Regions from separate parts of the Homo sapiens genome. Here all the other regions are linked to region 3. Evidence: fine-mapped expression QTL. A gene starts in region 3. Each other region holds a variant in brackets. All regions are shown on one strand. Distances are from middle to middle.

Region 1 (4,125 bases), 160 kb after region 3:
TGTCTAGGGCAAACAAATGGAAGATGATTTCTTCTCACCCATCTTAGTAGAGAAATTCTACAGGGGATCTGTAACCCTGACGATCCGTTGCAATCAGAACCTTTGGGTGACTGTTGAGTCTTTAGACATCATACAGGAAAATCTTGGTGGAAAGAAAAATTATAGCTGGCCCTTGTGGATTTTGTAGTTTTGGGCCAGGAAGACTAAAAACAATCTCAATTCTGGTCTCAGGAAGAGGAGTGAGAGTATGGGTCTGCCCAGTGGCTGAGTGGGTAGGTGAACTGGCTGGGTTAGCTGCTGCTGTTGGGGAGGGGGAGTTTCTATTTCTTTCTCTCCCCTTCAGATCTTTCTCCTTGCTTTTCACATACCCATCTTTCTCCTTGCTTTCCACATATACTGACTGAACATTACCTGTGTGTCTAGTTTGGCGCTGTGGTAGATACATGGATAAAGTAGGTCTGACCCCTGCTCTCAAAGTATCTACAGTCTAGGAGGGAAAATGGAATATTTTGATAGATATGCTCATTGATATGCTAATATTGACAGATATGTTAATATCTATGGATATGTTCCATTTCCCCTCCTAGACTGTAGATAATCATCAGAGGGTTGCATCATTTACAAAGTGCATTTAGTTGGATATACATATTTAGGAACCCATGTGTGGCCAGGTGTGGGAAAGCAGAGATAAATGTTGCAGAATCCCTGTTTCCGAGAAGCCGAATTATAGGAGAGGAACTCCTGAAGCAGAGTGTTATGGGGGAAGCATGTGAAAGGCACCGAGGAGCACTGAGGAAGGAGGGGAGGAGTTAGGGAAGCCACAGACATGTTTCATCCTTAAAGCCAGGCCTTTATCCTGCCAGAGACAATCCCATTCATGTTTCATTTTGATGGTCTTTGAAGAAATAAAATTTGGATTGATTATTTCAGAATCCTTCATGACTGTGAAATCCATATGATGAGCTCCATTTTTCCATTGAAGGAACAGAGGCCCAGAGCAGTGAAGTGACTCACTCAAGGTCAAACAGCTGGCACATGGCCAAGCTGGGCTAACCAGGTCTTTTGACTCATGTTCTTTCTGAGACGGCCCACTGCCTCTACAAGGGAGAGAGTGACAAGTGCCTTGTGCCCATGCACCATCTACTTTTAGCTCTTTCCTTGGACCAAGGCCCAGAAAGTGCCCCGTTGTGTCACATCTGTTCAAGCCTGTGGGTGATCTGTGGGCTCTGGCTTAATCCGGTAGAAGGATTTAGTAACATAGGTTGCCTGGCCTCTCAGTGGGAGAGCTGGTTAATCTCCCACAATCCTTGTTGTTCCAGCTCCTTCCCTTAGTTACGCTGATTGGACTGAGGCTTGGAGCCCCATTTTGGGGTCTTTGAAAAGTGAATGGCAGCAGTCACTCTGAAGGTTTCCCTGAAGATGCATTGAGATTCAGGGCTTAAATGGGGCACAGGGTAAAGCTGCCTTGTCCCAGGCAGTGAGGCATACAAAAGTGGGTGGGGTTCTCTGAAGCAGTTGCAAAAAAAGGGAAGGAAAGGGCATCCACACTGACTGAGTTAGCACATTGTGCATAGCATAGCAAATT[T/C]ACATACATTTGAGAGGAAACATTCACCGCCAAAGGACATGAAGATTTTGCAGTAAGCTTCAAAGACTCGTCTTGATGATATAGTCACTTCCTTGTCATTTTTTTCTGCTAGAATAGCAATCTCCTTAAAATGATGTAGGTGAAAGCATCCTGTTCCATGCCCACCTGGAAGCCCCTCTCTCGTGTTTCACAGATGGATGGGAGGAAAGTGGTGCAGAGATGTCAAGCAAGATCACAGAATTAATCATTGCAGAAGAGACTTGAATTTAGGGCTTGGACTCCAGGACAGCATGTGGGACAAACGGAACACTTCTAAGGCCACTGAGCCCTTAGGAGGAGGGTAGAGTTGGGGGGTTCATGCCCAATACATGGGCATGTTTGCTGAATGCATACAATCCAGATGAGATGGGTGGGGGCAAAGAGACTGCTTGGCCCAGTGCTAGGCTCTGTGGTCAGGTGCTCACAGAGACATGCCTGCAGCTCCCACTTTTTCTAGAGGAGCCAGTCAGATCCCAGCTCTGGAGGGCAAAGGCCATTCCTCTGAGAGAATGACCTCTTTCTCTCAAGAAGCTCCTTCTTTTAGAACAGTGGCTACTCCAGCCCCAGCCATCGAACACAACTGAACCAAGAAATAAATGGTTCTCATGGCCAGGGAGACGCTTCTACAGTTTAATTTGGCATAATTATACATTCCCTCAATAGGTTTTGTGATGTGCATTGTTATTTCAGCAAAAAATTGTTTGAGTATAAAAAGTTTTTTATTATAAAGAAAAATCGTTTTTTTTTTTGTTTGTTTTTTTCAAGGTCTTTATCATCCCCCTAGGGCTGGTTCTTTCCCACATTCGTGACAGACAGATCCTGGGGTTGCTTTCCCCCCTTTCCTAATTCATGCTTTGAAGAGAGAGGGAAGCCTAAATGATATGGTATGACGCTAGGGGCTGTGAAGGCCAGAGGAAGGCCAGGTCAATGGTGAAGGGAGAAGTGTGCCTCCTTGAAATGGAGATGGTGTCAGCCTCCCTGAGCCAGGCTGTGTCTGGTCAAGGACACAGACACTGTATGCTGGCAGATATACTGTACTTACTCAGGACTCAAATCCTGGGTCGGCCACTTGCTAGCTGTGTGACATTTGACAAGGTGCTCAACCTTGCCCTTTCCTTCAGTCTAGTTTGCTTTCCAAACTGAGGTAAAAATATTCCTGAGAGAAGTGTGTCACTGCTGGAGGATATAAAGTCACTCAATCAATAAACATGGCATTTGCTAATGAAGCACCAGTTTTATCAAAACATTGGTGGTGGTGGTGGTGGTTGTGTGTGTGTGTGTGTACCTTGGCAATAATAATATAATATTTACATTCAAACAAATACAGCTATTTAGTGGAAGAGATAGTCAAATGCTCATGAATTTTAAGGCTGAACAGGGAGCTTTGAAGCCTCTTAATGTTTGCCTTGGCCTACTTTTGCCTATATATTCTCTCTTGGTGCTTACCCATTCTCTCTTTTTCCCTGTTTCAAGGTCCTGCAGAGATAAATGTGACAGAAAGCTGTTTCTTCTATGAAATGAAAATGACATCCCCTGCCCAAGAGCAGTGGTATAATAATTCCATAAGATAATGTATTTAAAATCATTCAAGGTTTGCTGATAAGCCATTAGCTACAACACCAAAGGTACAAGGCATGAGAGAAAAAGCTGGTAACTTGGATTTCATTAACATTAAAAAATTCTGCTTTGTGAAAGACACTATTGAGACAGTCAAAAGGCAAGCCATAGAATGGGAGAAAATATTTGCAAAACACATGTCTGAGAAAGGACTTATATCCAATATATACAAAAGACATATCAACCCAACAATAAGAAAACAAACAATCCAATTAAAAAGTGAGCAAAAGGTGCAATCAGACACCTCACCAAATAAGATGTACAGAAGGGAAACAATCATGTGAAAAGTTGATCAACATAATTTGTCGTTAGGGAATTGCAAGTTAAAACAACCACAAGATATCACTACACACCTATTAGAATGGCCAAAATCCAAAACACTGACAATACTCAATGCTGATGAGGATGTGGAGCAATAGGAACTTTCATTCATTGCTTGTGGGAATGCAAAATGGTATAGCCACTTGAGAAAACAGTGTGGCAGTTTCTTACAAAGCTAAATCTAATCCTTCTCTATGATCTAGCAATATACTCCTAGGTATTTATCCAACTGATTTGAAAACGAATGTTCAAACAAAAACTTGCACACTATTGTTTATAGCAGCTTTATTTTAATAATTGCCAAAAACTGAAACAAAACAAAACAACGAAACAAAATGTCCTTCAATAAGTGAATTGGTGGACAAATGGTGGTACATATACACAATGGAATACTATTTCATGATTCAAAACATAAGGTGCTATCAAGCTGTGAGAGGATATGAATGAATCTTAAATGTGTATTGCTAAATGAAGAAAGAGTCTGAAAAGGCTGCATAGTGTACAATTCCAAGTGTATGCCATTCTAGAAACAGCAAAACTGTAATGGGAGTAAAAAGATAGGC
Region 2 (4,151 bases), 470 kb after region 3:
TTTTGTGCGTGTGTGTGTGTGTGCACGAGCGCGCGTGTGTGTGTGTTATAGTTTTATAGGCCCTGTGAGATTTATGCTTTCAGGAGGCTCTATTTTTGTATATTTTGAGGTTTTGTTTCAAGATTTAGAAACAAATTTCTTTTAGCATTACTTGTAGTGTTTGCTTGGTAGTGGTAAATTCTCTCAGCATTTGCTTGTCTGAAAAAGACTTCGTCTCTCCTTCATTTATGAAGCTTAGTTTCACTGGATACAAAATTCTTGACTGATAATTATCTTGTCAAAGAGGCTAAAAATAGGACTCCAATCCCTTCTATCTTGTAGGGTATCTGTTGGGACATTTGCTCTTACTCTGATAGGTTTTCCTTTTTGCCTCCCAGCTCTTAAGATTCTTTCCTTCGTCTTGAGTTTAAATAACCTGATGAGTATGTGCCTAGGCAATGATCTCTTTGTGATGAATTTCCCAGATGTTCTTTGAGCTTCTTGTATTTGGATGTCTAGATCTCTAACAAGAGCAAGGAATTTTCCTCAATTATTCCCTCAAATAAGTTTTCCAAACTTTAGAGTTCTCTTCTTCCTGAGGAACACCAATTATTCTTATGCTTGGTCATTTACCATAATCTCTAATTTATTGGAGCCTTGTTCATTTCTTGAAAATTCTTTTTTCTTTGTCTCTGGCAGATTTGGTTACTTCAAAAGCCTTGTCTTTGAGCTCTGATGTTCTTTCTTCTACTTGTTCAATTCTATTGTTGAAACTTTCCAGTGTATTTTGCATTTATCTAAGTGAATTTATCATTTCCAGAAGTTGCAATTGTCTTTTCATTGTGATATCTATTTCTCTGGAGACATTTTCATCCATATCATGTATTTTTTTTATTTCTTTAAGTTGGTTTTCACCTTTCTCTGGTACCTCTTTGAGTAGCTTAATAATCAACCTTATGAATCTTTATCTGGCAATTCAGAGATTTCTTCTTGGTTGGGATCCACTGATGGAGAGCTAGTGTGATTTTTGAGGGTTTTATAGAACCTTGTTTTCTCATATTACCAGAATTACTTTTCTGATTTTTTCTCATTTGGGTAGACAGTTTTAGTGGAAAGATCTAAAACTCAAGGACTGCCATTCAGATTCTTTTGTCCCATGGGGTGATCCCTTGATGTGGTGCTCTCCTCCTTCCCTTCATGACCAGGTTTCCTGAGAGCCAGAGTGTAGCAATTGTTTTTATCTTTCTGAGTCTAGCTACCCACTGGGGCTCCTGGGCTCCTGGCTGATGCTGGAGAATGTCTGCAAAGAGTCCTCTGATGTGATCTGTCTTCAGGTCTCCCAGCCATGAATACCCCCACCTGCTCTAGTGCAGGTGGCAGGGGAGTGAAGTGGACTCTGTGGGAGTCCTTGGTTGTAGTTTTGTTTAGTGCACTGGTTTTCTTGAATGCTGGTTATGCTAGCAGTGAAGTTGTCACACAGATAGACTCAGGACCTCTGATTAGCCATGGTGTTGCAGGCAGTAGAATTAACTGTTGTTTTTTCCTTATTTGTAGCAGAGTTGTTCTGTTTTGAGTTGCTGTAATGGCTTGAGTTAGTTGGCCTCCAGCCAGGAGGTGGCACTTTGAAGAGAGCACCAACTGTGGTAATAGAAGGGGGATATAAGCTTGTCCTACATTGGCCAGGATAAGTACTTGGGTTTCTCAGGCAATTGGCAGGGCCATAGAGTTCCCAAGTGTTCATGTCTTTTGCTTTGCCTACCAGGGCAGGTAGAGAAAAACCATCAGTTGGGGACAGGGTTAAGCAGGTCTGAGCTCAGACTTTCCTTGAGCAGGGCTTGATGTGGCCACTGTGGGGGATGGGTGTTGGTTCTCAGGCCAATGGAGTTATGTTCCCAGGGGGATTATGGCTGCCTCTGCTATGTCATACAGGTCACCAGGGAAGTGGGGAAAAGCCGGCAGTGACAGGCCTCACTTAGTTCCCACGCAGCCAGCAAGGCCAGTCTCACTCTCACTGTGCCCCACTAACAGCACCAAGTTTATATCCAGGCAGCCTGTGAGCAGGGCTGATATTTTGCCCAAGGCTACAAGCCTCCCTTCTGAGAAAGCAAGCAGGGCTCTCAGTCCTCTCCTTTCCCCACCTGCCCTCACCATCAACTGTCACTTCTGTGCTTGTATCTGCACTTCCTGTCTGCCCCCCTCAAACCCAGATTCTACTCAGGAAAATTCATGCTCAGTCAAAGTTATTACAAAATTTAATTGTAATAAACTAGAAGCTTCCTTCACCTTGTGGCCCCTGCCCAATTTCACTGGCTGCTTTCTCCAAGGACCCCTTTGAGGTAATAAAGCCAGGGATGGCTTTCCTGGGCTCGAGCTGATGACCAGGAGTGCCTACAGGGCTCTTCCTTCTGCTGCTTCTGCTTTTATATTTCACTTGGCTCCCTATATCCATTTCAGCTTTAGGTAAGGTTAAATTCTTCTCCTATGATCTGGATTTCCATTTTCCTCAATGGGGATAAGAATTCAAAGTGGACTTTTCCCCCCCTCACACTTTGGGAACTCACAG[G/T]TTTTCAGCTGTCTCGGGAGTTCATAGTGGCAAACTGCTTCTTTCAAAGGGTCTGTGAATTCTTTTGGTTTTCCTGGTATGTCCCTGCAGTGGTTCTTGGAGCAAAACTTCACAGTGTGAGTCTCCACACACTGTTCTGTCCATCCAAGTGGGAGCTGCACGTTAGTCCTGTCACCTGTCCACAATTTTCCCCAGCCACCTGTGTTATATTCATTTAACCAGTGAGAAACATAGGCTCTGAGGTCACTGAGCTTGCTCAAGATCACACAAGGGTGGACTGCTGAGCCTACCTCTCAACCTCAACAGCTGTGGCATTCCATCCTTTGTCAGTCACTTCAACTTACCTCTCTTATTTCTTGGAATTTCTCCTATGACCAAAATGAACAAAAGTTGTATATCACTAAGGAGGAAAAGAAATATCTTGGGAGACTACCACGCAGGCCAATTTGAGGAGGATTTGGGAAGGGCAGCCTTCTTGGTGGAGGGGATTCTTTCTGTTGTTACCTCACCAGGACAGAAGTCACTCAATCTCCCTGTGATCAGTGATCCTTTGATGTTACTATTGGGATTGTTGTGGGTCACCACAAACCATACCCATATAAGACGGTGATGTTAATCAATAAATGTGTGTGTTCTGACTGCTCCACCAACCACCTGTTCCTCTGTCTCTTTTCCTTTCCTCAGGTATCCCTATTCTCTAAGAGGAAACGTTGAAATTAGACCATTTAATAACCTTATAATGGCTTCTAAGTGTTCAAGTGAAAAAAAGAGCCTAATGTTTCTCACTTTAAATCAAAAGCTAGAAATAATTAAGTTTAGTGAGGAAACCATGTTAAAGGCCAAGATAAGCTGAATACTAGGCACCTTCTGCCAAATGTTTAGCCAAGTTGTGAATGCAAAGAAAAAGTTCTTGAAGGAAATGAAAAGTTCTCCTCCAGTGAACACACAAATGATAGGAAAGTGAAATGACCTTGTTGCTGATATGGAGAAAATTTGAGTGATCTAGATAGAAGATCAAACCAGCCACAACATTCCTTTAAGTCTAAGCCTAATCCAGAGCAAGGCCCTAACTTTCTTTAATTTTGTAAAGTCTGAGAGAGGTAAGGAAGCTGCAAAGAAAAGTTGGAAGCTAGCAGAGGTTGGATCATGAGGTTTAAGAACGAAGCCATCTTCATATATAAAAGGGCAAGGTGAAGCATCAAGTGCTGATGTAGAAGCTGCAGCAAGTTATCCAGAAGATCTAGCTAAGATTATTGATGAAGGTGGCTACACTAAACAATTGATTTTCAATGTAGATTAAAACAGCTTTATTGGATGAAGATACCATCTTTCATAGCTAGAGAGAAAAAGTCAATGCCTGGCTTCAAAGCTTCAAAGGAGAGGCTGACCCTCTTGTCAAAGGCTACTGCACATGGAAACTTTAAATTAAAGCCATTGCTCATTTGCCATTTTGAAAATCCTATGGCCTTTCAAAATTATGCTAACTTTACTTTGTCTGTGCTCTAGAAATGTAACAAAAAAGTGTGGATAATAGCACATCTGTTTATAGTATGGTTTACTGAATATTTTAATGCCATTATTGAGACCTACTGCTCAGAAAAAAATACTT
Region 3 (4,122 bases):
TTTAACTTTTCAAGAGAAGGTGTTTCTCAAGAAAAAGCTATCTCAAGCATCTGCCTTCTGAACTACCCTGGCTTTTACCTGTGCTATTTGAATTGAGAGTGCTGTGTGTGATTTGCAGTTGGATGCTTCAGCTCCAAAACTTCTTGGGAGAGTCAGATCTTCTTGCTTCCAGAAGATAGCAATGTTGTCTTTCTTTGCAAGCCCCACTTACTAACCGGTGCTAACTTGAGCTTAATTCAGTACACAGCAAATCCCGTGCTAGGTACTAGAGAGATGCCGCGGCGCTGATAACCTACACAGTTTGCTAGTCTTTACCATCTGTAACACCAAATCAGGCTGACATAGGCTCATGCCTGTAATCCTAGCACTTTGGGAGGCCGAGGCAGGCGATCATGACGTCAGGAATTTGAGACCAGCCTGACCAACATGGTGAAGCCCCATCTCTACTAAAAATACAAAAATAGCCGTGTGTGGTGGCACGAGCCTGTAATCTCAGCTACTCAGGAGGCTGAGGCAAGAGAATCCTTTGAATCCGGGAGGCGGAGATTGCAGTGAGCCAAGATTGAGGCACTGCACTCCAGCCTGGGCGATAGAGTGAGACGCCATCTCGGGGGAAAAAAAAATAGTTAGAAGCAAAGAGTTGACAGTGAAGTTAATTCTGTGCAGGAATGAAGAAAGTACTCAGAGAGGAGGTGACATTTCAGAGGATACTAAAGCAAGAGAAGCATTTCCCTAACTAGAGGAGGAAAGGGTATGCATTATAGGCAGAGCGTGCAGGAGAGCAGGGGTGTGGAGTGTGAAAGGATTGTACCAGAAAGGGCAATTGTACCAGAAAGGGTTGATGGTGGCTGCATATAAAGTTATCAAAACCCAAAACAAGTCAGTGTAAGAAAGAACATGATTCATATAATGTATCAAAAAGCTACAAATATTTCCATTTCTGAATGCACACAAAGAACCACCTGGAAAAAACATCCATTTATTGTCCACTGTGCCCAGGTCCATGCTAGGCACTATAGAAGATACAAGGGAAGGCCCTTGCCCTGGAAATGTTTATTCTCTATCTGGAAAAAAGATTAACTCACATAAAATAATTAAAAATAAGATGCCAGCCTCTAAGGAAAAATGTTAGATTGTCTGAAACTCAAGCAGAGAGCATTTTGGCTGCCCTGGAATTCCCCATAGTAGTAGAATTACTCTTGGGGCCAAGAGAGGGGTTGCCTGAGACTCCTTCACCCAGAAAAAAGGTAATTGCTAACCCTCACAGAGCACTTCCTATGTACTGGGCACTGTTCTAGGAGCTTATACGGATTAACAAATTAAGTCTTCACAACCACCCTATATGAAAAGGAACAGTTATCTCTAGTTACATACGGGGAAACTGAGGCACAGAGTCACAGGATTGAAATCCAGGAGATGTGGTTCCACAGTCGTGCAGTCTTTTTCATTTTAGTATTCTCAAAATCTAGCGTAGTACCCGGTGTTGGATGTTAAGATCTTAAACAAACAAACAACTTGTTTTCCTTAAAAATTATATTTTCAGGGTAATACAATTCAAGTCACAATAAAGACCTGAAAGCCTCAGGTTTGTAGGTGAGGAAAAATGCATTTTAGCTGTACAGCCCTAACTTTTACTTGACCCAAGGCCAGCAAGAAAATGTTTCTTTTTATTTATATATATTTTTTCTTTGGTGACAATTTGGTGTTTCTGAACGCTAGGGGCTCCCGGTTTCTCTGGTTTGAGAGTAACTTTTCCTTTTAGGACTTTTTTTTTTTTTTTTGAAGGGGGTGGGGGAAAATGTGGCCTTAATTATCCTACGTCTTAGGCAGCTTAAGGAAGGGGCTGTGCTTTCGGAATCCCATCCGAGCCAAGTAAGGAGGTCCCTCTCTCTCTCTCCCCCCACGTCTTCTCTTTTTAAAGGACCTCGTGAAATAAAAGTGCAGAAAACAAACCCAGGCGATCACAGCAGCAGCCGCCGCGGCAGCAGCACCAACAGCAGGAGGAGCAGGAGGAGCCGGAGGAGGAGGAGGAGGAGGAGGCAAAGTTAGAGTTGGGGCTGGCGCTCCGGAGTTGCTGGGCTCAGCGCAGCTCCCATTCATTAAGGAACCAGCTGCGGAGGAAGGTGGCCGAGCGCCCGCGCTGCCCACTCGCTCGCTCGCGCACTCAGACGCGCGCCACAACAGCGCGCCCCAAGCTGCGCAGCTCTGCAAAAGTTTCTGCTCGGGATCTGGCTCTCTTCCCCTTGGACTTTAGAACGATTTAGGGTTGACAGAGGAAAGCAGAGGCGCGCAGGAGGAGCAGAAAACACCACCTTCTGCAGTTGGAGGCAGGCAGCCCCGGCTGCACTCTAGCCGCCGCGCCCGGAGCCGGGGCCGACCCGCCACTATCCGCAGCAGCCTCGGCCAGGAGGCGACCCGGGCGCCTGGGTGTGTGGCTGCTGTTGCGGGACGTCTTCGCGGGGCGGGAGGCTCGCGCCGCAGCCAGCGCCATGCAAAACTACAAGTACGACAAAGCGATCGTCCCGGAGAGCAAGAACGGCGGCAGCCCGGCGCTCAACAACAACCCGAGGAGGAGCGGCAGCAAGCGGGTGCTGCTCATCTGCCTCGACCTCTTCTGCCTCTTCATGGGTGAGCCCAGCCCCGCTGTCCCTCGGCCCCTCGGCCCCTCGTCCCTCGGCGCGCGTCCCAGCCCAGTCCGGGGCCGCGCAGCGCCGCGCCGCGCCGCGCCGTCAGCTCCGGGGGGCCCCCGCAGCCTTCCTGGGGAGCCTTTGCGCCGCCCAGGCCCGAAGCCCCCGCCCTCCCCGATCCCACCGACTTCTTGGCCTGTACTTGAGTGGGTCTGGGCGTGCTTAAGCGTTCGTGGGCAACTGTTAAACCAGCTCAGTAAAAGTCGTCTCCACGTTGGAAGCCCGGGCGGAATCCCGCGGAAGGTGTGGGTTCGTCCTTTTAGCGTAGGGGAAGTTGGTTGAGCCGCGCTCTAGAGCCAGCGTATAGCTAGCTGGTCGCCCTCCATCCGAGTGAAATGGATCGCCCCGAGAGTCGGGCTCCTGCCTGGAGCCGAGCTGCCTTCCCGGCGGCTGTATGTAAACATCCAGCCCTTCCGCCTTTGCTGCCCAGGCTCGCCAGACTGGCTAGCCGGCCTTTTCACTTGCTCCTCTCCTGTAGGTGCTTTCCCCGGGCTTGGTGCTGGGCACGGCTTCAGCAATCACTTGAGTGCCTACTGTGTGCCAGGTGGTAGGCGGCTTCAGGGGCATCAGTTTTAGCTCGCCCACTCTCTGACTCGGTGCAGCAGGGGTGATGAGCCCCATTTCCCTGATGGGCACATTGAGGCACTGGGAAAGCCAGCTGCGATCTTGTTTGGGGACCACAAATTTAATTGCGCCCCCAGAAAGTTGAGGCGATGGTCCACTTCTGTTTTCCAAAGTCGTTGGAAGCCACAGCTGGAAGAGCGGTGGGAGTTAAAGGAATTGGAGTGGGAGGGCGAGGAGGATTTATGAACTCGGTAGGGGAGGGAGAAAGCGCTTCACAAGAATGAACAGGACTTCCAAGGTTGAAGTCAGCCTAGGATTTTTTTTTTTTTAAAGCGAATCATGGTGTAATGGAAAACGCACAGTACTTGTCATCAGAACACTGCCACTCTTGCCACTTGCTGGGTGTGCCACTTAACTGCCTCATGGGCCTCAGTTTCCTCAGCAGTTGAATGAGTGGGTTGAAGTAGATGCTCTCCAAGGCCCCTTCCCGCATTAGGAACTCGGATTTGGTCCAGAAGCTGTTCTGCCAACTCTGCTAACTGAAGAAACATCTGTGTTCCCAATTCAGTTCCCTTAAAATACAGCTCCTGCACAGACTTAAGTCCCCTTTGAAATGGATTTGTCCATGCAGATTTTGCAGACCAGAGACTTCTTAGGCTGGAGTTATACCTCTCTGGTATTCATGACTCTTTCTGTAGCACTGCTCTTACTGTGCAGTGTCCTCTTGATGGTCCATAGTAAAGAAAGATAGGATTCTTAGAGTTTAAAAATAAGAACGGCCCCCTTCAGGTAAGAAGAGACAGCTGAAGGTATAATTGTGCTCTGTGGAAGGGTGGAGGGGTGGAAAGGAAGAAAAGTCACTGTAGTTCAG
Region 4 (4,151 bases), 110 kb after region 3:
GATGAAAATTGAGGTTCAGGAGGTGAAGTCACTTGTCCAAGTTCACACAGTGCATAGGAAGCAGAATGAGAAACTGGAACAAGTTCTGGGAAGTGGAAGCAAGCTCTTCTTGAATCATGAGTCAGTCACTGGCACGGTCAAGTGTGATGATTAATGAACTGAATAGAAAGCTAAATAATCCTTTTTTAAAAAAAAAGTTTTATTTTATAGATTCAGGGGTACATGTGCAGGTTTGTTATATGGATATATTGTGTAGTGGTAGGGTTTGGACTTTTAGGGTGCCTGTCACCCAAACAGTGAACATTGTACCCAACAGGTAATTTTTCAACCCTCTCTTCCTCTGACGCTTCCCCCTTTTGGAGCCCTTAGTTCTGTTATTACTCTCTAGATGTTCATGTGTACTGATTCTTTAGCTCCCACTTGTAAGTGAGAACATGCAGTATTTGGTTTTCTGTTTCTGAGTTATTTCTTTTAAGATAATTGCCTCTAGCTCCATCCATGTTGCTGCAAAAGACATGATTTCATTCTTTTTAATTGGTGGTGTAGTATTCCATGGCGTATATGTACCATATACATCTATTTTTGAGACAGAGCCTTGCTCTGTCACCCAGGGTAGAGTGCAGTGGTGTGAACTCAGCTAGCTCACTGCAGCCCTCCACCACCTGAGTTCAAGTGATTCTCCTGCCTCAGCCTCCCGACTAGCTGGGATTACAGGTGTGCACTACCAGGCCTGGTTAATTTTTGTATTTTTAGTAGAGATGGGATTTCACCATGTTGGCCAGGCTGGTCTCAAACTCCTGGCCTCAAGTGATCCACCCACATCAACCTCTCAAAGTGCTGGGATTATAGGTGTGAGCCACCGCACCCAGCCATATTTTCTTTATCAGTTCAGCTGCTGATGGACACTTAGGTTGATTCCATGACTTTGCTGTTGAGAATAGTGCTGCAATAGACATACAAATACAGGTACAAGTACTGGGTAGATACCCAGTAGTGGGGTTGTTGGGTCAAATGATAATTTTATTTTTAGTTCTTTGAGAAATCTCCATACTGTTTTTCCTAGATGTTGTACTAGTTTACTAATTTCTTCCCCACCAACAGTGTATAAACATTCCCTTTTTTCCACATCCACACCAACATCTGTTGTTTTTTGACTTTTTAATCATAGCCATTCTGACTGGTGTAAGGAATACATTTTCACAACAATAATCGCCAAGTTATATGACCTCAAGAAAGGTAGTCGCTGTCTCTGAGCCTCAGTTTCCTCTTCTGTAGTGAAAAATGGACTCTGAGTGCCGAGGTCTCTCTCAGCTCTCGGGTGCTGGGATTCAGTCTAACTCTCCCTGAATTCCTCAGCCATCATGTGAGCCATTTAAAAATGATAGATTCTTCCAGGAGGAGCGATGTCTCTTTAACTAGAATCGTCAAGGTCAGGCCAAGCAAACTTATTTGGGGTTTTTGATGGGATCGCTCTTAATTGATTGGGGTGAAGAGTTCAGAGCTAAGTTGGAGGATTGGCTTTTCAGCTCGGTGCTGGCAGAGACTGGGGCTTGACATGATTTGAGGTTGTCTAATGACAGCAATGCTCTTAAACAGCTGACGGGAGAGGCTTTCGTCCAGAACTCAGCAACGCTTTCCACTCCTTGGAGAATAAGAAGGGAGCTGCTGAACAATGAATAAATATGCTGTCTTGGTCACCAGTGAAGCCATGTCAAATTTCTGGGGCTTTCCTATCTTTTACTCAACTTACTGCCTGAAGGATTTTCGGTGTTCCTTGTGTGGATACGTGTGCATTGTTCCTTTGTTTGCTTTTCTTTCTTTCTTTTTTTTTTTTTTTGAGATGGAGTCTCTCTCTGTCGCCCAGGCTGGAGTGCAGTGGCGCGATCTCAGCTCACTGCAAGCTCCACCCCCTGGGTTCATGCCATTCTCCTGCCTCACCCTCCTGAGTAGCTGGGACAACAGGCGCCCGCCACCACGCCCGGCTAATTTTTTGTATTTTTAGTAGAGACGGGGTTTCACCATGTTAGCCAAGGTGGCCTCGATCTCCTGACCTCGTGATCTGCCTGCCTCAGCCTCCGATCTTTTTTTTTTAAAGATTTTTAAAAAAAATTCTAGGTCTGAAAACATTTCGGATCATATGAAATTTGATTTACTTTGCTCTCCAGAGTCTATGAGTGGTTTTTATCTCTTCTGATATTTGTATTTTCTTTCTCCTTATTACTCATTTAACTAAAATTTATTAATAATAGTAAGAGTTAAAATTGGGAGAACTTAACCTATCAATGGATACCAGGCACCATTGTTTCAGATATGAGGAGGTACTATATTGTTTCAATCAATAAACATTCATTGAACACCCAACAATTTCTAGACATTATTCTAGACAAGAGGC[G/A]TTCAGCAATGACGAAGGCAAAGTCTCTTTCTTCATGGGGTTTAGACTGTGGTGGGGAACACAGACAATAAGCAAGTAAACAAATATTTGGTATATTTTCAGGTTACCTAAATACATCTTCAGTGCAAAACAACCTTAACACGGCAGGTATTATAAATTCATTTTTACATATGCAGAAATACCAATGTGCAGATAATGAACTCACCTGCCCAAAGGGAGATGAGAGATTGGATTTAAATCCAGTCTTTCTAGTACATATTGAGGCTGTTGAAGCTTTTTATTGTGACACATCTTTACTGAGCCCAGAGACAGATAAAGTATGAAGCTCCGAGGCTTGAACTCCAGGGCGCTTCACTTGCATGGGACCTTTCTAAATTCACCTTATACCTAATTTTTAATCTTTTTCCCAATGAGGGCCTACCGCATTTTGTAAGCCTGGGGTAGGGAGGATGGGTCTCACAAAATCTAGATGGACCCTCACTGAGCTACAGATTCAAAGGCGTTCCAGGTTCCCTCAGAAGCCAGTGGAAGAGACAGATGTGAAAACAAATAATCTTTTTTCTTTCTTTTTTTTTTTTTTTGTGAGATGGAGTCTTGCTTTGTCACCCAGGCTGGAGTGCAATGGCACGATCTCGGCTCACTGCAGCCTCCACTTCCCAGGTTCAAGTGATTCTTGTGCCTCAGCTTCCCAAGCAGCTGGGATTACAGGTGCCCACCACTGTGCCTGGCTAATTTTTGTATTTTTAGTAGAGACGTGGTTTCGTCATGCTGGCCAGGCTGGTCTCCAACTCCTGATCTCAGGTGATCCGCCTGCCTCGGCCTCCCAAACTGCTGGGATTACAAGCGTGAGCCACTGAGCCCAGCTGAAAACAAATAAACTGAATACATAAAAATAAAAGCTATAATAGAAGTGTTACAGGCTTAATCATTCCCTTGCCCCACTTCATATGCTGAAACCCTAACTCTTAATGGGACTGCATTTGGAGATAAGGCTGTTAGAGAGATAGTTAAGGTTAAATGAGGTCACATTTAACTTTAATTATAACCCTAATTTAATAGTGCTCTTAAAATAAAAGGAAGAGGCACCAAAGACACTTGCACAAAGAAGGAAGTCCCTGTGAGGACATAGGGAGGAGGTGGCTGTCTGCAAGCCAGGAAGAGAGCCCTTAGCAGGAATTGAATTTGCTGACACCATGATCATGAACTTCTAGCCTCCAGAACTGTGAAGGAATCAATTTCTGTTGTTTAAGCTACCCAGTTTGTGTATTTTGTTTTGGCAACCCAAGCAGAGTGATACAAATCGGATGGATTTGAGGATGGGGGAAGCAATTCTGGCAGGGAAAATAACCCCAGCAAAGGTAGGGAGACTTGAGAGAACATAATATATTTGTGGAACCATAAATAATAATAGTGTATTTTTGTGGAGGATGAAGGCAGAGCAGGAATGGCTGAAAGATGAATGATGACAAGCGGGCAGGGAAAAGTCACAAAAGGCATGGCATGCCAGGCTGAAGAATTTGGGCTTTATCTGATAGGTATGGGGTGCACCTGATTTGCCTTTAAGCAGAGGGAGAGTCAGAATCCTCATGGTGGCAGAAGGGGTCTGGGTGAGAAGAGGGAGATTAATTAGGTGACTAATGTAAGAGCTCAGGTAAGAAAGCATGTGGCCCTGAAGTAGGTCATGGGGATAGAGATAGGGATATGTTTTGGAACTGGAATGAGAGCAAGGGAAAGAGAAGGGGAAGAGCTAGAACAACAC
Region 5 (4,000 bases), 49 kb after region 3:
ACTCTCATGTCCTGGAAGAAGTGAGAACAGCAGCAATTCTTCCTTAGTTAGGTACAGCTCTTAGGGATTCATGACTATTTGAAAAACGTATCAATACGGAGGTGATGATATGCTCCATTTGAAGTCATAATGCTTAGGAGGCCGAGAAATACTTTCTGTGAGGGGCAGTGTGTGTTGGGGATGGGGTGGAGAGTCAGATAACATTTATGAGCTATTTAATGGACCAGAAACTCATGTCTTATCTTAAATCCTCTTCAACAGCTATGTGAGGTTGCTATTATTTACCACATTTGACAAATGAGGGAGGACACTGAGGCTTATAAGGTTGAAGTGACTAGCCCGAGGTTACTCTGCTTAGTGAATGGGGGAACACGAATTAAAACCTAGATCTGTTTGGCTTTCAAGCCTAAGTGCTTTAACAGATGCTAATGAAGGCCCACTCTGGTCGGTGCTATGTAGAGTGCTCTTTATTTAGTTAGCTATAAAAGCTTTTAGTTACTGGGCTTGGAGAGTTAAATGTATGGAGGAAGATAAAACATCTAGACCACTGGGCAGATGACTGCCCAAGATTGACAGTGTGCATCAATGGTTTGTAGAGATGGTGATCACCTGCTGTGTGTAGGTAGGTGCCGGGTGATACCTCCCTTATAGCAAGCAGGCTTTGTGGTAGGCACCTTGGCCTATAAGCTGATGTGTAAAATACAGATCTTGCCTTTGGATCTTATGGTTTAAAGGGAATTCAAGACAAGTACAAGTCTGACTATAGGATTAGACCCTCAAGGAAAGGAAATAATTAGTCTGAGAATAAGAGGAGAGTCAGGGCAGTGCATGGTGGTGGCTGCTAGGGAGGGGAGAGCTTCAAGGACGAAACATATCAGATGCTGCAGATTGTCTGAGGTCTAAATAAAGTGCTATGGGAGTTCAGAGGAAGAGCACTTAAGGCTAAGGCTTATGCCAAGGCTTCATCATCATCATTATTCACTGAGCACTCGTCTCATATAATTTTCACCACAACCCTGCTTTTGATACTGTCATCATCTTCATTTTTAGAGATAAGGAAACTGAGACTTAGAGAGCTCAGTTGTACAAGACTCATAAGTCAAAGAGCCAAACTCTAACCCAGAACACTAGTTGGCACTTGAGCTCTACTTTAAGGCATAAGTAGGATTTTCGTCAGAGAACCTGACCTAGGCAGAAGGAGTGGCTTCAGCCATTTTAGAGACTTCAAAACAATGAAGTGTTTTCAGGGAATGTAGAGCAGACCTGTTTGGCTGAATGAATGGAATATAAGGGAGTAGACAAGGTTACAGCAGGAAAAGAAGATTGTGGCAAGATCGTGAAGACCCTTGAATGCTGAGGAATTTTTACTCCAGCTAATTGGCTAGAGGTTGATGAGAGTATTTTAAGTGAGCTTGGTCAATTTTCTAATTAAGGTAAAGATGAGGCCTGAACCACAGTGGTGGCAATGCAAGGGAAATAGAAAAAGATGGATGCAAAAGACCTTGCAAAAGCCGGATGGACAATGGGATAAGGGAGAGGAAGGAGTCTAAGATTGCACATCTTTGTCAGTCATATGCTTGGTGGC[A/G]TCTTGAGCAGAACTAGAGGGAAGAGAAGTGAAGTTTGGGACAGGAGTGGGAATGGGTGTGACCTTAGACTTGGTTAATTTGAAATGGTACTAACATCTCCAGGTGGGAGAGTTAGCAGAAGATTGGAATTGGGCCAATTAGGGGAAAGGGGTAGGCTGAAGCTAGAGAGAGACAGAGAGATGCCCTTTTGAAGGTCATCTTCACAGAGGTAACAATTGAAGCTATTGAAGCAGCTGAGATCACAGCAGAAAGCCAGGAACACAATCCTAGGGAAGACCCACATTTATTGGGTAGAAGTCAGATGTGGAACCACTAGAAGAAGCAGACATACATTTAGAAATAGTAACAAAAGCATGGTGGTGTGATATTAAGGAAGCCTAGGAAATTCAAGGTAAAAAAAAAAAAAAAGAGTAAGAGGTTGCAGTAGGCAATGCTGCAGAAAGAACAGCCAGGAGATTCTTGCATGGACTGGCAGAGTTGGGCATTCAGGAGGCCCATGACTCTGAGTCCCTGACTTTTGGGAAAACAATGATGCTTTATGCCTCAGACTCTCTTCTTCATGAGACTTGTGGGCACAGGGCAGCCACTGCTAATTTCAACCATAAATAACTTCTGTAGCCCCTCTCTGGCCTCTTTGCTGTCTTTATTCTAGATATTGGAGTTCTGACTTACCCATAAAGCCCAGAAATTATACTGGTGTCTTTGGACAGATCTATGTCTTCATTACCTTTCCCAGACAGTGAGGCACTGATCTTCTGAAAAAGGCTGAAGATGATAACCAAGTGACAGAAGAATCAGAGAATAAATTTCCAATCAACTATTTCTAGTTACTAAAGACGCTGCACTTTATTGCAGTAGATGGAGCAGTCAGTGCCAGAGAAAATACAGCCATACATCTGTCTCCATCCTTAGAAACAGGACCCAGTACATTATATTTTTCCTTTCCTTTGGGACTGAGAACTAAAGTGAGAAATGTGATTCTCCCTTCACGATTCTCCATCATCAACAGTTTGTTGAATTAATCTTTTCTGGGCAAAAGAAGTTCATCAATTCATGTAACCGAGATGTAAAAGAACAACTTGACCCTCTGTGGCTAGCAGGAACTTAGAGGTGCAGGTGCCTTTCAAGATGGCAGGCCCTTACTGGGTGTTCTGTGAACATATGTCTCTCTGGAGACATACATACTACTGCCTAGTAGGACTTCTAAGAGAAAGCCAGCTCGATGCCATTGGGAACAGCACAGGAATTAGAAGGAGGAAGCCCCAGCTTCAGTGATGGTCTTCTTGCTGTCTCATTTTTATCAGAGTGATTCACTGCCCTCTCTGGCCTTCATCATACTCATTTATATAAGTGTTGGTAATAATTTAGTAATTCATATGGTGTTGTGAGAAGCAAACAGTATAGTGGATGTGAAAGTGCTTTGAAAGCTGTAAAGTACTAAGCCAATATTATTAAAGCAGATCAGAGTATAGGAAAGTTTGTCCTTCAGACTCAGCGGTGGAAGATGAGTTCTCAGTCTCTGAAAGAGATTGTTAGGCTGCTGTGCAAAAATATTACTTTTCTTGGGATAATTTACAAATAGAGTGGAATGTTAAAAATAACACAAAACAGTAGAGTAGGGTTGTCCCTTCTGCTTTGGGTTTAGACTTTGCTTCTGTCTTGATCTGCTGAAAAATACATACTAGATAAAATGATCAAAAGCAATGTCATCCATACATACATTTTCTGGTCCTACCCTGGAGGGGTGGTATTTCCAAACTCTTCATTTAGGTATGGTATCGTCCAAGGAGCTCTTGGAAGAGATACTCTCTACAAAACATGTTTTTTATTTGTTTGTTTGCTTTCCTCTTCAATGGAGGGAAGAAAAAAGTTAACTTTTGGAGGGCTCTCCTGCTAGGTGCCAGGCGATTGACATATCACCTTATCTAATTCCCTGGCAATCCTGCCACATAGATATTATTAACCTTATTTTATAGATGAGGACATCTAAGCCCAGAGAGGTAAAGTCACATGCCTAAGGTAATAGACAAGATTCAGACAGGTTTTTCTGGCTACAACGTTGTTGCTTCTTTCACCACCTCTTGCTCTATCTTTTCCCAAAAATCTATCCTAATTTTTCTTCATATTTCCTCTCCATAACAGTTAAATATTTGTAAATATGTGGGCAGTTGAGCTCTTTTTCACCAGAAAAGACAGGAAGAGGAGCTGTCTTGCAGTTGGAGCCAACCTCTCTCCAAACTGCAGCCCTTCTCAGGCAAGGACTGATCCCTTTCTGTCCCCTTGTAGCTTAATTGCAATGCTTTCCCATTTTATTAGTTTCCAGATTCTGTGCCAAGTGCTTTAAAAGGCAGGTAGGGGAGAATTCTCTGCTTGCCTGGCAGCCTGCCATCACCCCCAGAATCTGTTGCTTGCTG

Alleles and levels. Positions count from the first base shown, and alleles are read on the strand shown. Sizes are in standard deviations (SD) of each study's normalised expression. Not every link is listed here.
For the expression in prefrontal cortex of the gene that starts at base 1,943 in region 3, G is the high allele of the variant in region 5 and A is the other (small effect, 0.35 SD a copy in ROSMAP).

Evidence for each region. PIP is the estimated chance that this variant, and not a neighbour inherited with it, causes the effect.
Region 1: its variant is the best candidate, but not a certain one, in a credible set for the expression of PLPP3 in whole blood (TOPMed, PIP 0.79).
Region 2: its variant is the best candidate, but not a certain one, in a credible set for the expression of PLPP3 in lung (TOPMed, PIP 0.55).
Region 4: its variant is the best candidate, but not a certain one, in a credible set for the expression of PLPP3 in whole blood (INTERVAL, PIP 0.56).
Region 5: its variant is the best candidate, but not a certain one, in a credible set for the expression of PLPP3 in prefrontal cortex (ROSMAP, PIP 0.83).

What each region holds. Positions count from the first base shown.
Region 1 is chr1:56,422,345-56,426,469 of GRCh38, reverse strand. All of the region lies in intron 1 of LOC124904185 (a long non-coding RNA gene), which reads left to right. Among named protein-coding and RNA genes, the nearest start is that of LINC01767, 9.4 kb to the right of the region's middle. The variant T/C (reference allele first, on the strand shown) is at 1,586.
Region 2 is chr1:56,104,558-56,108,708 of GRCh38, reverse strand. The region is part of intron 1 of LOC105378741 (a long non-coding RNA gene); the gene reads left to right. Among named protein-coding and RNA genes, the nearest start is that of LINC01755, 160 kb to the right of the region's middle. The variant G/T (reference allele first, on the strand shown) is at 2,543.
Region 3 is chr1:56,577,384-56,581,505 of GRCh38, reverse strand. It overlaps PLPP3 (phospholipid phosphatase 3), which reads left to right and starts at 1,943. Exons shown (of 6, transcript NM_003713.5): 1 at 1,943-2,628. The coding sequence starts at 2,490. RefSeq lists an enhancer at 3,958-4,122.
Region 4 is chr1:56,466,114-56,470,264 of GRCh38, reverse strand. All of the region lies in intron 1 of LOC124904185 (a long non-coding RNA gene), which reads left to right. Among named protein-coding and RNA genes, the nearest start is that of LINC01767, 53 kb to the right of the region's middle. The variant G/A (reference allele first, on the strand shown) is at 2,393.
Region 5 is chr1:56,528,105-56,532,104 of GRCh38, reverse strand. All of the region lies in intron 2 of PLPP3 (phospholipid phosphatase 3), which reads left to right. Among named protein-coding and RNA genes, the nearest start is that of PLPP3, 49 kb to the left of the region's middle. RefSeq lists an enhancer at 47-782. The variant A/G (reference allele first, on the strand shown) is at 1,586.